Linked DNA regions of Homo sapiens: region 2 is linked to region 1. Evidence: fine-mapped expression QTL. A gene starts in region 1. The other region holds a variant in brackets. All regions are shown on one strand. Distances are from middle to middle.

Region 1 (5,384 bases):
ACTCTCACATATCATACACCTGTCTGAATATAAGCAAGCATGTGACAAACCACTAAAAAAAGGGAATTCTGGGCATGGCACCTCTCTTAGTCACAACCACCAGATCGCTTAATTGCCAGATTGCTTAATGAGTTTCTTCTCAGGCTACAGACAACTTGGGAAATCCTCAGTTACGAAAGTATGTAGACCATTCTACTTTCTGAAAACTCACTTGGTCCTTATCTTCCACAGAAATTATCGTTAACAGCAACCACTGTCTCAGTTTAAATTTTGTTTGTTGGCTCCCCACTTGAAGCCCTTTTATATACTATTTTTAAGGGTTCCATCCTCACTTTCTCTTCTTTCGCTACTACTTTCATGGATAATCCCATACACATTAATGATTTCAGTCATCATCCATGTGAATTAACGCCTAAATCTTCAGCTATGACATCTCTAAACTCCATGTCCAATCTCTGACGGCATACTGGCCACCTTTGTACGAATGGCCTATACACCCACACTCATAGCAAGTTAAAACAAGAAAAAGTGCATTATACTAACTAAACCTGCTTCTTCAGTTTCCATTTGATTTCACTGCTGTTAACTGGCAAAAAGTTGTACCCCTTTTGACTTCTTCAAATATTTGGTATCCTCTGCCATCACCCACAGAGTCAGAAGTAGTATCCTGACACTAAGTTGGCCTATTATGACGCCATATCCCTTCTGCTTTCAAAACGTATCCCCAAATCATCTACCATTTACTTTTCTTTGCTAGTAAAATGAGCTCTGAAATCCCACAAGATGATTATACTGCAATCTTAGTACTGCCAAGAAATCCAACCTTGTTTACAGTTGTTACTTCCCCCTCCCAGTACATTTCATACCCTCTCCTTCTACTCAAATCCTTCAGCCTTCTTCACTTCCACTCTCCGCTGATGACTTCCCTGAAAACTAAACTTCTCACCTCCTCAACACGTGTCTATCTTGTTAACCTGTTCAGTACCCCACTCAACACACTCAACTATTTGTAGACAATGTTCAGTGTGGTTTAGTAACATCCCACATGCTGGAGTCCTCTCCAGCCCAGAGATTTCATATTTAAAAGACAGGTGTGGGGGCAAGGGGGAAAGGCTCTCACAAAACGTAAGAAGCATAAGATACTACTAAATAACACTGTTTGGCTACTTTCATAAACACGTGTTCCCTGCAAGGATTCTATAAATTAACGTAATCATCAAGAGCCAGCTTTGAAACACAAAAAATAATACTTTTCCTGATCCCCAATGTATGTGGTTCAAAAAACAAAGCCTAGATGTGATGATAAAAAAAAATCAGATCTGACACAAAACTCAACTATAACCACAAAAGTACAGCCTAAACTGAGTAGTTACGGAAATAACCTAAGATCCTCGGGTTTTCTAAAGTCTAACAAAAAATGATACGATCTATACATAGAACCCTTCAGGCCACCAAATTTAGGAAATAAGTCAGTACTAAGCTCAGATTCACAACGCGACCTGCTTTGAGAGGCAGCGAATAAGGGGCAGTCGGAGCCAATACTTCAACACGTGAGCCCGGAGCACCAACGACCTGCCCACCCTCCAGGGCCCACACAAGCAACCTCTAGGCTCCTAGGCCCCAGCCACCCCCGCCCGTCATACAAGACCTCTCCCCACAGCTCCGGGTCCCTTAGGCACCCGACCTGTCCGAGTCCGAATCCGAGTCCGAGGTCTCCAAGGAGTCCGGCGCCCGCGCAGGCTCTGCGGCTCCTGGGGAGGTGACGCAGTCTCCGCAGGCCGGCGATTCAGCCGGTGGCTGTGGCTGCGGCGCCGGGGTCCCGGCCGCGACGGCGTTCAGAACGGGCTGCAGAGGCTGCTCCCCGGCAGGCTTAACCTCCACGGTCTGCCCAGCGTCCGGGGACCCCTCAAACGACTGTAGCGGCGGCTGTGTCCCTGGCACAGGGGCAGAGCCCGGAGACGGAGCCGCCGGACCTTCCCCAACTCCAAAGTCGGTGCCATTGAATTTCAGAGTTTCCAGCTGAGCGGCGGCGGCCTCCACTACCTCCATCGCACCGCGCCAGAAACCGGGTCGGCCTCAGGATTGGGGCCCCTGGACAAGCTCACGGCTCTCTCCAGAAATAGAAAAACAACTTAGGCAACCGCAGCAACACTGCCTGGGCCCAACTTCCCGCGTTTCTCAGGTAACTACACGCGGAGGAGCCAAAAGACACGCCCCCGCCATTTACGCAGCAACGCTTTCCGAAGAGCGTGTGACGTATGTGGCGCGACGGCGCGACGGCGCTCGCGGGGGCAGGATACATGCGTCATATCTTCGAAAATCAGGATTAGGGGGTCGGGCGCCGTGGCTCACGCTCGTAATCCCAGCACTTTGGGAGACCGAGGTGGGCGGATCACAAGGTCAGGAGTTCACAGACCAGCCTGCCCAACATGGTGAAACCCCATCTCTACTAAAAATACAAAAATTAGCTGGGCATGGTGGCGCGTGCCTGTAATTCCCACTACTTGGGAGGCTGAGGCAGGAGAATCGCTTGAACCCAGCAGGCGGAAGTTGGAGTGAGCCGAGACCGCGCCACTGCACTCCAGCCTGGCGAGAAAGCGAGACTCCGTCTCAAAAAAAAATAATCAGGACTAGGGAGGCCCTAAATCGACCGTTTTCACTGCGTCATGTGAACCATTCAAGGCCTGAATGTCGGATTTTCCTATTGCTGCATGTGAACCAATTCTGCTTGAAGCGCCAAAATGAAGCAGGGATTATACAACAGGGGGGTGCCTGAAGAATGCTAAGTTCTGTACATCAGAAACTTGAGCCAGGAAGTCTTGACAAGACGCTAGTAACTTCATGAAAGTTAAATGAAGTTTATCCATCAATAGATCCATCTGTCGATAGATAGGGTATTAACCATTTTTTCAAAAATGTAACTACAACTATTCCATTTTCCTTTCTCCAAAGTACCCTCAAAGAGAGCAGTAATGGACAAAATTTTGCTGTGTTGTTCATGTTATGGTGATGTCTATATCATACTTAGCACTGTTTCGTAGTAGAGAGATGAGACTATGAGACTGAAATGTACTCACTTATTGTTGGAAACCACTAGTCTAAATTGTGGAGAAAGCAAGCAGAGTTCTTAGGACTGAGGAAGAGATCAGAATTTTCTGGTTTCCTATTAGGTCTTCAGTTTGAGGCATCAGTCCCTGTGTAGTAATAATAATCATTGATACCATTTGTTAAACATGCATATGTGCCAAGGACTGTGCTAAAGATTTTATAAATTATTCACTGAGAATTTAGTGTGTCATCTACAACAGTAGATCTTCATAGAAATGCAAGGCAAGTGTAATAAGAGTAAGGTTTTAAGAAGCTTACAATCTACTTGAAGTAGAGAAGGGCAATGCACAGGAGATAACTAGAAAAATATTTGAAATATGAAATAGAAAATCCAAGTGCAGCAGAAATGGGAAGTAGGATTGGTAGGCTATTTCATGGAAATCCTCCAAAGTGAAGAAGGACTTTAAACTTGGGATACGAACTTACTAGCACAATGATTAAGCAGAGCTCAGAGTTTTCAACTAAAAAGACCTGTGTTCAGGCCTCAGCTCTACCATTTTGTGTTTGGTGTTACTGACTTTGGGCAGTTAATCTAAATCCTAATTTCCTTATCTGTAAAATGGAGATAAAAATACTATCTCATTTAGTTCATGTGAGCACTAAGTAAGGCTTTATATAAGGGAGTGGCATGTCATACATTCAGTGTGCAAAAATACTTGGAAAATGGAACAATGCATGAACTCACGAATAAAATATTTAATTAACAATGATCTTGCAAAGACATGCAGTACAGATTTGAGAAGGGAAGACGTTTGAGCCAGAATTATTCCCCAGCCAGCCACTTTGTTGCATTTTTCCAGGAATTAGGTGATAAAAGTCTGAACTAGGCTTACAGTCAATGAAATAGAGTAAAGGACATCCCCAGCATCAGGGGAAGAATAAAAGTACTCTAAAATTTCTGGTCAAGGAAATTAGAAAGAAGTTGGTATTACCAATAAAAACGGAGAAGTTGGCCAGTCGCAGGGCCTCACGCCTGTAATTCCAGCATTTTGGGAGGCTGAGGTAGGCAGATCACCTGAGGCCGGGAGTTTGAGACCAGCCTGGCCAACATGACGAAAACCCATCTCTTCTAAAAATACAAAAACTTAGCTGGGCATGGTGGTGGGCACCTGTAATCCCAGCTACTTGGGAGGCTGAGGCAGGAGAATCGCTTGAACTCAGGAGGCAAAGGCTGCAGTGAGCCAAGATTGCACCATTGCACTCCAGCCTAGGCAACAAGAGGGAAACTCCCTCTCAAATTAATTAATTAATTAATTAAACGGAGAAGTTGGAAAGAGATGTGGGTATGTGAAGTTGAGTCTGAAGAAAAACTAGACAATTAAAAATGTAAATAGGCATTTAAAAATAAGAAACTGGAATTTGACAGAAAGGTTAAGACCAGAAGCCTAAGTTATGGGATAATTGAAATACTCATTTGTTCATTCAGTAATCATTTTCTTAACATTACGATATGCTGTGCACTGCATTATAAACTATGCATACAGGAAGATAAACACAGTCCCTACCCTTATGGAGTTAACAGTTCAGTAGAACAGACAAGTTGAAAACAAGCAGAAGGTACTATAGTAGAGAAATGTACCATGTAAATGCAAGAATGTATGAAATGGGAAAACTAAAGACAGAGAAGATACTTGGAAAATTAAGGAAAATGTACTATAAGAGATATATCGTGGCTATAAGAGTAATTATAGCCATAAGGCTCACTCAAGTGTCTTGAGGGGCTGACACTAAATGTATTTATCAATATAATACTAACTGGCCCTGGAGATTTCCACCCCTGGCCCAGTGATTTCCAGGAGACCAGGCCACTTCAGCACAGATGCAACTTTCATGAACCTTAAAGCTTACCCTTGTAAGAATAGCTTCGACTCCATTTATGAGAGAAACATCTGATAACTGACCAAGCTGAATACAGGTTTTAAAAAGGGGGAAGAAACCCCCAACACTGAGAACAGTCTCTGGTTGGAGGCTCTCTTGATCATCCGAGCCCTGACTATCTGGTCTATACCCCCAGCCTCTTCCCACTATCTTTTAAGAGCGATGCCAGAATAAACTACTAAAGCATGAGACAGTCTCTAAGACTCATCTTTGACTTGAATAGAACTGAATGGGAGAAGTCACCTCTAGGAAAGCTGGTTAAACAGGACCACCCAACCACTGCCTCACTGACAATGACAAAAGGCTTTACAATGCGTGTGATACTTGAGCTGGACTTTTAAAGAGAACCATGAATTTGTTAATCTGAGAAAACAGGAGACCTTCACAGGGGATAATAA
Region 2 (5,384 bases), 45 kb after region 1:
CTGTGGGATCGGTGGTGATATCCCCTTTATAATTTTTTATTGCATCTATTTGATTCTTCTCTCTTTTTTTCTTTATTAGTCTTGCTAGTGGTCTATCTATTTTGTTGATCCTTTCAAAAAACCAGCTCCTGGATTCATTAATTTTTTGAAGGGTTTTTTGTGTCTCTATTTCCTTCAGTTCTGCTCTGATTTTAGTTATTTCTTGCCTTCTGCTAGCTTTTGAATGTGTTTGCTCTTGCTTCTCTAGTTCTTTTAATTGTGATGTTAGGGTGTCAATTCTGGATCTTTCCTGCTTTCTCTTGTGGGCATTTAGTGCTATAAATTTCCCTCTACACACTGCTTTGAATGCATCCCAGAGATTCTGGTATGTTGTGTCTTTGTTCTCGTTGGTTTCAGAGAACATCTTTATTTCTGCCTTCATTTCGTTATGTACCCAGTAGTCATTCAGGAGCAGGTTGTTCAGTTTCCATGTAGTTGAGTGGTTTTGAGTGAGATTCTTAATCCTGAGTTCTAGTTTGATTGCACTGTGGTCTGAGAGATAGTTTGTTATAATTTCTGTTCTTTTACATTTGCTGAGGAGAGCTTTACTTCCAATATGTGGTCAATTTTGGAATAAGTGCGACGTGGTGCTGAGAAGAATGATTATTCTGTTGATTTGGGGTGGAGAGTTCTGTAGATGTCTATTAGGTCCACTTGGTGCAGAGCTGAGTTCAATTCCTGGGTATCCTTGTTGACTTTCTGTCTTGTCGATCTGTCTAATGTTGACAGTGGGGTGTTAAAGTCTCCCATTATTAATGTGTGGGAGTCTAAGTCTCTTTGTAGGTCACTCAGGACTTGCTTTATGAATCTGGGTGCTCCTGTATTGGGTGCATATATATTTAGGATAGTTAGCTCTTCTTGTTGAATTGATCCCTTTACCATTATGTAATGGCCTTCTTTGTCTCTTTTGATCTTTGTTGGTTTAAAGTCTGTTTTATCAGAGACTAGGATTGCAACCCCTGCCTTTTTTGTTTTCCATTTGCTTGGTAGATCTTCCTCCATCCTTTTATTTTGAGCCTATGTGTGTCTCTGCACGTGAGATGGGTTTCCTGAATACAGCACACTGATGGGTCTTGACTCTTTATCCAATTTGCCAGTCTGTGTCTTTTAATTGGAGCATTTAGTCCATTTACATTTAAAGTTAATATTGTTATGTGTGAATCTGATCCTGTCATGATGATGTTAGCTGGTTATTTTGCTCGTTAGTTGATGCAGTTTCTTCCTAGTCTCGATGGTCTTTACATTTTGGCATGATTTTGCAGCGGCTGGTACCGGTTGTTCCTTTCCATGTTTAGCACTTCCTTCAGGAGTTCTTTTAGGGCAGGCCTGGTGGTGACAAAATCGCTCAGCATTTGCTTGTCTGTAAAGTATTTTAGTTCTCCTTCACTTATGAAGCTTAGTTTGGCTGGATATGAAATTCTGGGTTGAAAATTCTTTTCTTTAAGAATGTTGAATATTGGCCCCCACTCTCTTCTGGCTTGTAGGGTTTCTGCTGAGATATCTGCTGTTAGTCTGATGGGCTTCCCTTTGAGGGTAACCCGACCTTTCTCTCTGGCTGCCCTTAACATTTTTTCCTCCATTTCAACTTTGGTGAATCTGACAATTATGTGTCTTGGAGTTGCTCTTCTCGAGGAGTATCTTTGTGGCGTTCTCCGTATTTCCTGAATCTGAACATTGGCCTGCCTTGCTAGATTGGGGAAGTTCTCCTGGATAATATCCTGCAGAGTGTTTTCCAACTTGGTTCCATTCTCCCTGTCACTTTCAGGTACACCAATCAGACGTAGATTTGGTCTTTTCACATAGTCCCATATTTCTTGGAGGCTTTGCTCATTTCTTTTTATTCTTTTTTCTCTAAACTTCCCTTCTCGCTTCATTTCATTCATTTCATCTTCCATTGCTGATACCCTTTCTTCCAGTTGATCGCATCGGCTCCTGAGGCTTCTGCATTCTTCTCGTAGTTCTCGAGCCTTGGTTTTCAGCTCCATCAGCTCCTTTAAGCACTTCTCTGTATTGGTTATTCTAGTTATACATTCTTCTAAATTTTTTTCAAAGTTTTCAACTTCTTTGCCTTTGGTTTGAATGTCCTCCCGTAGCTCAGAGTAATTTGATCGTCTGAAGCCTTCTTCTCTCAGCTCGTCAAAGTCGTTCTCCATCCGTCCAGCTTTGTTCCATTGCTGGTGAGGAACTGCGTTCCTTTGGAGGAGGAGAGGCGCTCTGCTTTTTAGAGTTTCCAGTTTTTCTGTTCTGTTTTTTCCCCATCTTTGTGGTTTTATCTACTTTTGGTCTTTGATGATGGTGATGTACAGATGGGTTTTTGGTGTGGATGTCCTTTCTGTTTGTTAGTTTTCCTTCTAACAGACAGGACCCTCAGCTGCAGGTCTGTTGGAGTACCCTGCCGTGTGAGGTGTCAGTGTGCCCCTGCTGGGGGGTGCCTCCCAGTTAGGCTGCTCGGGGGTCAGGGGTCAGGGACCCACTTGAGGAGGCAGTCTGCCCGTTCTCAGATCTCCAGCTGCGTACTGGGAGAACCACTGCTCTCTTCAAAGCTGTCAGACAGGGACATTTAAGTCTGCAGAGGTTACTGCTTTCTTTTTGTTTGTCTGTGCCCTGCCCCCAGAGGTGGAGCCTACAGAGGCAGGCAGGCCTCCTTGAGCTGTGGTGGGCTCCACCCAGTTCCAGCTTCCTGGCTGCTTTGTTTACCTAAGCAAGCCTGGGCAATGGCGGGCGCCCCTCCCCCAGCCTCACTGCCGCCTTGCAGTTTGATCTCAGACTGCTGTGCTAGCAATCAGCAAGACTCCGTGGGCGCAGGACCCTCCGAGCCAGGTGCGGGATATAATCTCGTCGTGCGCCGTTTTTTAAGCCC[A/G]TTGGAAAAGCGCAGTATTCGGGCGGGAGTGACCCGATTTTCCAGGTGCTGTCCATCACCCCTTTCTTTGACTAGGAAAGGGAACTCCCTGACCCCTTGCCCTTCCCGAGTGAGGCAATGCCTCACCCTGCTTCGGCTCGCGCACGGTGCGCGCACCCACTGACCTGCGCCCACTGTCTGGCACTCCCTAGTGAGATGAACCCGGTACCTCAGATGGAAATGCAGAAATCACCTGTATTCTGTGTCGCTCATGCTGGGAGCTGTAGATAGGAGCTGTTCCTATTCCGCCATCTTGGTTCCTCCCCCCACTTTTTTTTTGGGGGGGTCAGCGTCTCACACTGTCGCCTGGGATGGAGTGCAATGGCGCAACCTCAACTCACTGCAACCTCCACCTCCCGGGTTCATGTGATTCTCCTGCCTCAGCCTCCTGAGTAGCTGGGGTTACAGGTGCACACCACCACACCCGGCTAATTTTTTATATTTTTTAGTGGAGACAGGGTTTCACTGTGGTGGCCAGACTGGTCTCAAACTCCTGACCTTGTGATCCACCTGCCTCGGCCTCCCAAGGTGCTGGGATTACAGGCGTGCGCCACCACACCCAGCCTGATTTCTTTTGTATAATCGGTCAAAATCCCTATTTGATTCTCTTCCTCAAGAGTGCCACTCAAATAATAAGTGAGGTATTCGTATTTGTGTGGATCTTATTTTGTAGTTGTTATTCAGTTCCATTTCCATATGTATATTGTTATACCAACACCACATTATATTACTCTAGATTTATAAAAGTTATTGATAAATATGTGTGATCTATATATAATACATATATATGTATTATATATAATACACATAGATATATAGATACATATCTATCTCTACATATATCTGTGTATATATGCATATATATGTATGGATAGATATCTATATGTGTATATATAGGTATATATCTATATAAGTACACATGTGTATATATGTATAGATAGATATCTATATAATGTATATTATATCCATATAATACCCATAATATACATACATAAAGATATATATACACATGTATACATTTATATATGATACATACATATATATTATACAGAGATGATATATTTACATATATTTCTCTCTATATATATATACACACATATGTATTTTTATTTGAACTATTTTTTTTGTGGGTTTTTAGCTAAAAGTCTACTAGTTTGATTTTTTGTTTGTTTTGTTTGGAGATGGAGTCTTGCTCTGTCAACCACGTTGGAGTGCAGTGACATGATAACAGCTCACTGCAGCCTCCATCTCCAGAGCTCAAGGGATCCTTCCACCTCAGCCTCCTGAGTAGCTGGGACTACAGGTGTGCACCATCACATGCAGCTAATTTTTTAGTGTTGTGGAGAAAGGATCTCACTATGTTGCCCAGGCTGGTCTTGAAGTCCTTGCCTCAAATGATCCTCCTGCCTCAGCCTCTCAAAGTGCTGGGATTACAAGTCTGAGTCCCTGTGCCTAGTCCCTACTAGTCTGATTTTAATATAGCTACACAAACTTTCTTTTAGGTAATGTTTACATGGTATATCTTTTCGATCCTTTTTTCCTTATATTTTGAGTATTATATTTTATATGACTCTCTTATAAGCAGTATACAGTTGTCTTTGTTGTTGAGAAGTTGGTTCATGTTTATTTAATAACTGATATGTTTGGATTTAAATCTATCATTTTGCTATTTGTTAAGTATTCATTTTGTTTATTCTGAATTCCTTTTTCTCTCATTTAGGTCAGTCAGTTGCTCTAAATATACATGATTTAAGTTATCTTAGCAGGATCCCTTCACTAAAATACACATATTCTCAGAAGTATATAACTTTAGCAAATGTAAAACATAGCTTGAAAGAGGCAGCATGTAAAGTGAAAAGTTAAGGGTCTAAGGAAACCAGAATTGGAGAACCAAAGGGGTGCAGCTGTTAAGGAGAAAAATAAATCTTAAGAATAAGTTAGTGTCTATTTAATCCTAGTATTGGAGGGGAAGTTATAGCTGAAGAAGTGTTCAAGGATCATGGGTGTGAGGATTGAACACTGCGCATTCTCATTAGTTCCTACAGTCACCAGGTATTGGTATTAGTCAGTTTTGGCTGCACATGAAACAACCTTACAATCACCATATTAAATATAAGTATTTATTCTCACACTAAGACCATGTGGGTCAGCTTCTATGGCTCTACTTCTGAGGTGGCTCCACTCCATGAATGTTCATTCTGGAACTTAGAAACTAGGAGTAGTGGCTACTTTGGAAGAGATCCAAAACTTCCAGAGGAATAAGTGGAAATAGACAATGACATTTAAGATCTTAAGATCTGGAATAAAACATATTCACGGTCACTTTCACCCACATTCCAAGGACCCAAATCAGTCACCTGGAGAATGCTAACATCAAGGGGCAGGGAAGTAGGAGGTTAAGGAATAAATATTTAGTCTAATTGATCTCAGTGTCTAACTAGAAAAT

Direction of the effects. Alleles are on the strand shown, and positions count from the first base shown. SD is a standard deviation of normalised expression in the study named.
For the expression in tibial nerve of the gene that starts at base 2,212 in region 1, allele A in region 2 goes with a higher level than allele G (small effect, 0.14 SD a copy in GTEx).

What was found. PIP is the estimated chance that this variant, and not a neighbour inherited with it, causes the effect. A credible set is the group of variants that fine-mapping cannot tell apart.
Region 2: its variant is the best candidate, but not a certain one, in a credible set for the expression of NAF1 in tibial nerve (GTEx, PIP 0.63).

Annotation. Positions count from the first base shown.
Region 1 is chr4:163,164,679-163,170,062 of GRCh38, forward strand. NAF1 (nuclear assembly factor 1 ribonucleoprotein) reads right to left here and starts at 2,212. Exons shown (of 8, transcript NM_138386.3): 1 at 1,685-2,212. The coding sequence starts at 2,049. RefSeq lists enhancers at 1,357-2,224, 1,716-1,795, 1,826-1,945, 1,966-2,165.
Region 2 is chr4:163,209,764-163,215,147 of GRCh38, forward strand. No RefSeq gene overlaps it. Among named protein-coding and RNA genes, the nearest start is that of NAF1, 46 kb to the left of the region's middle. The variant A/G (reference allele first, on the strand shown) is at 2,900.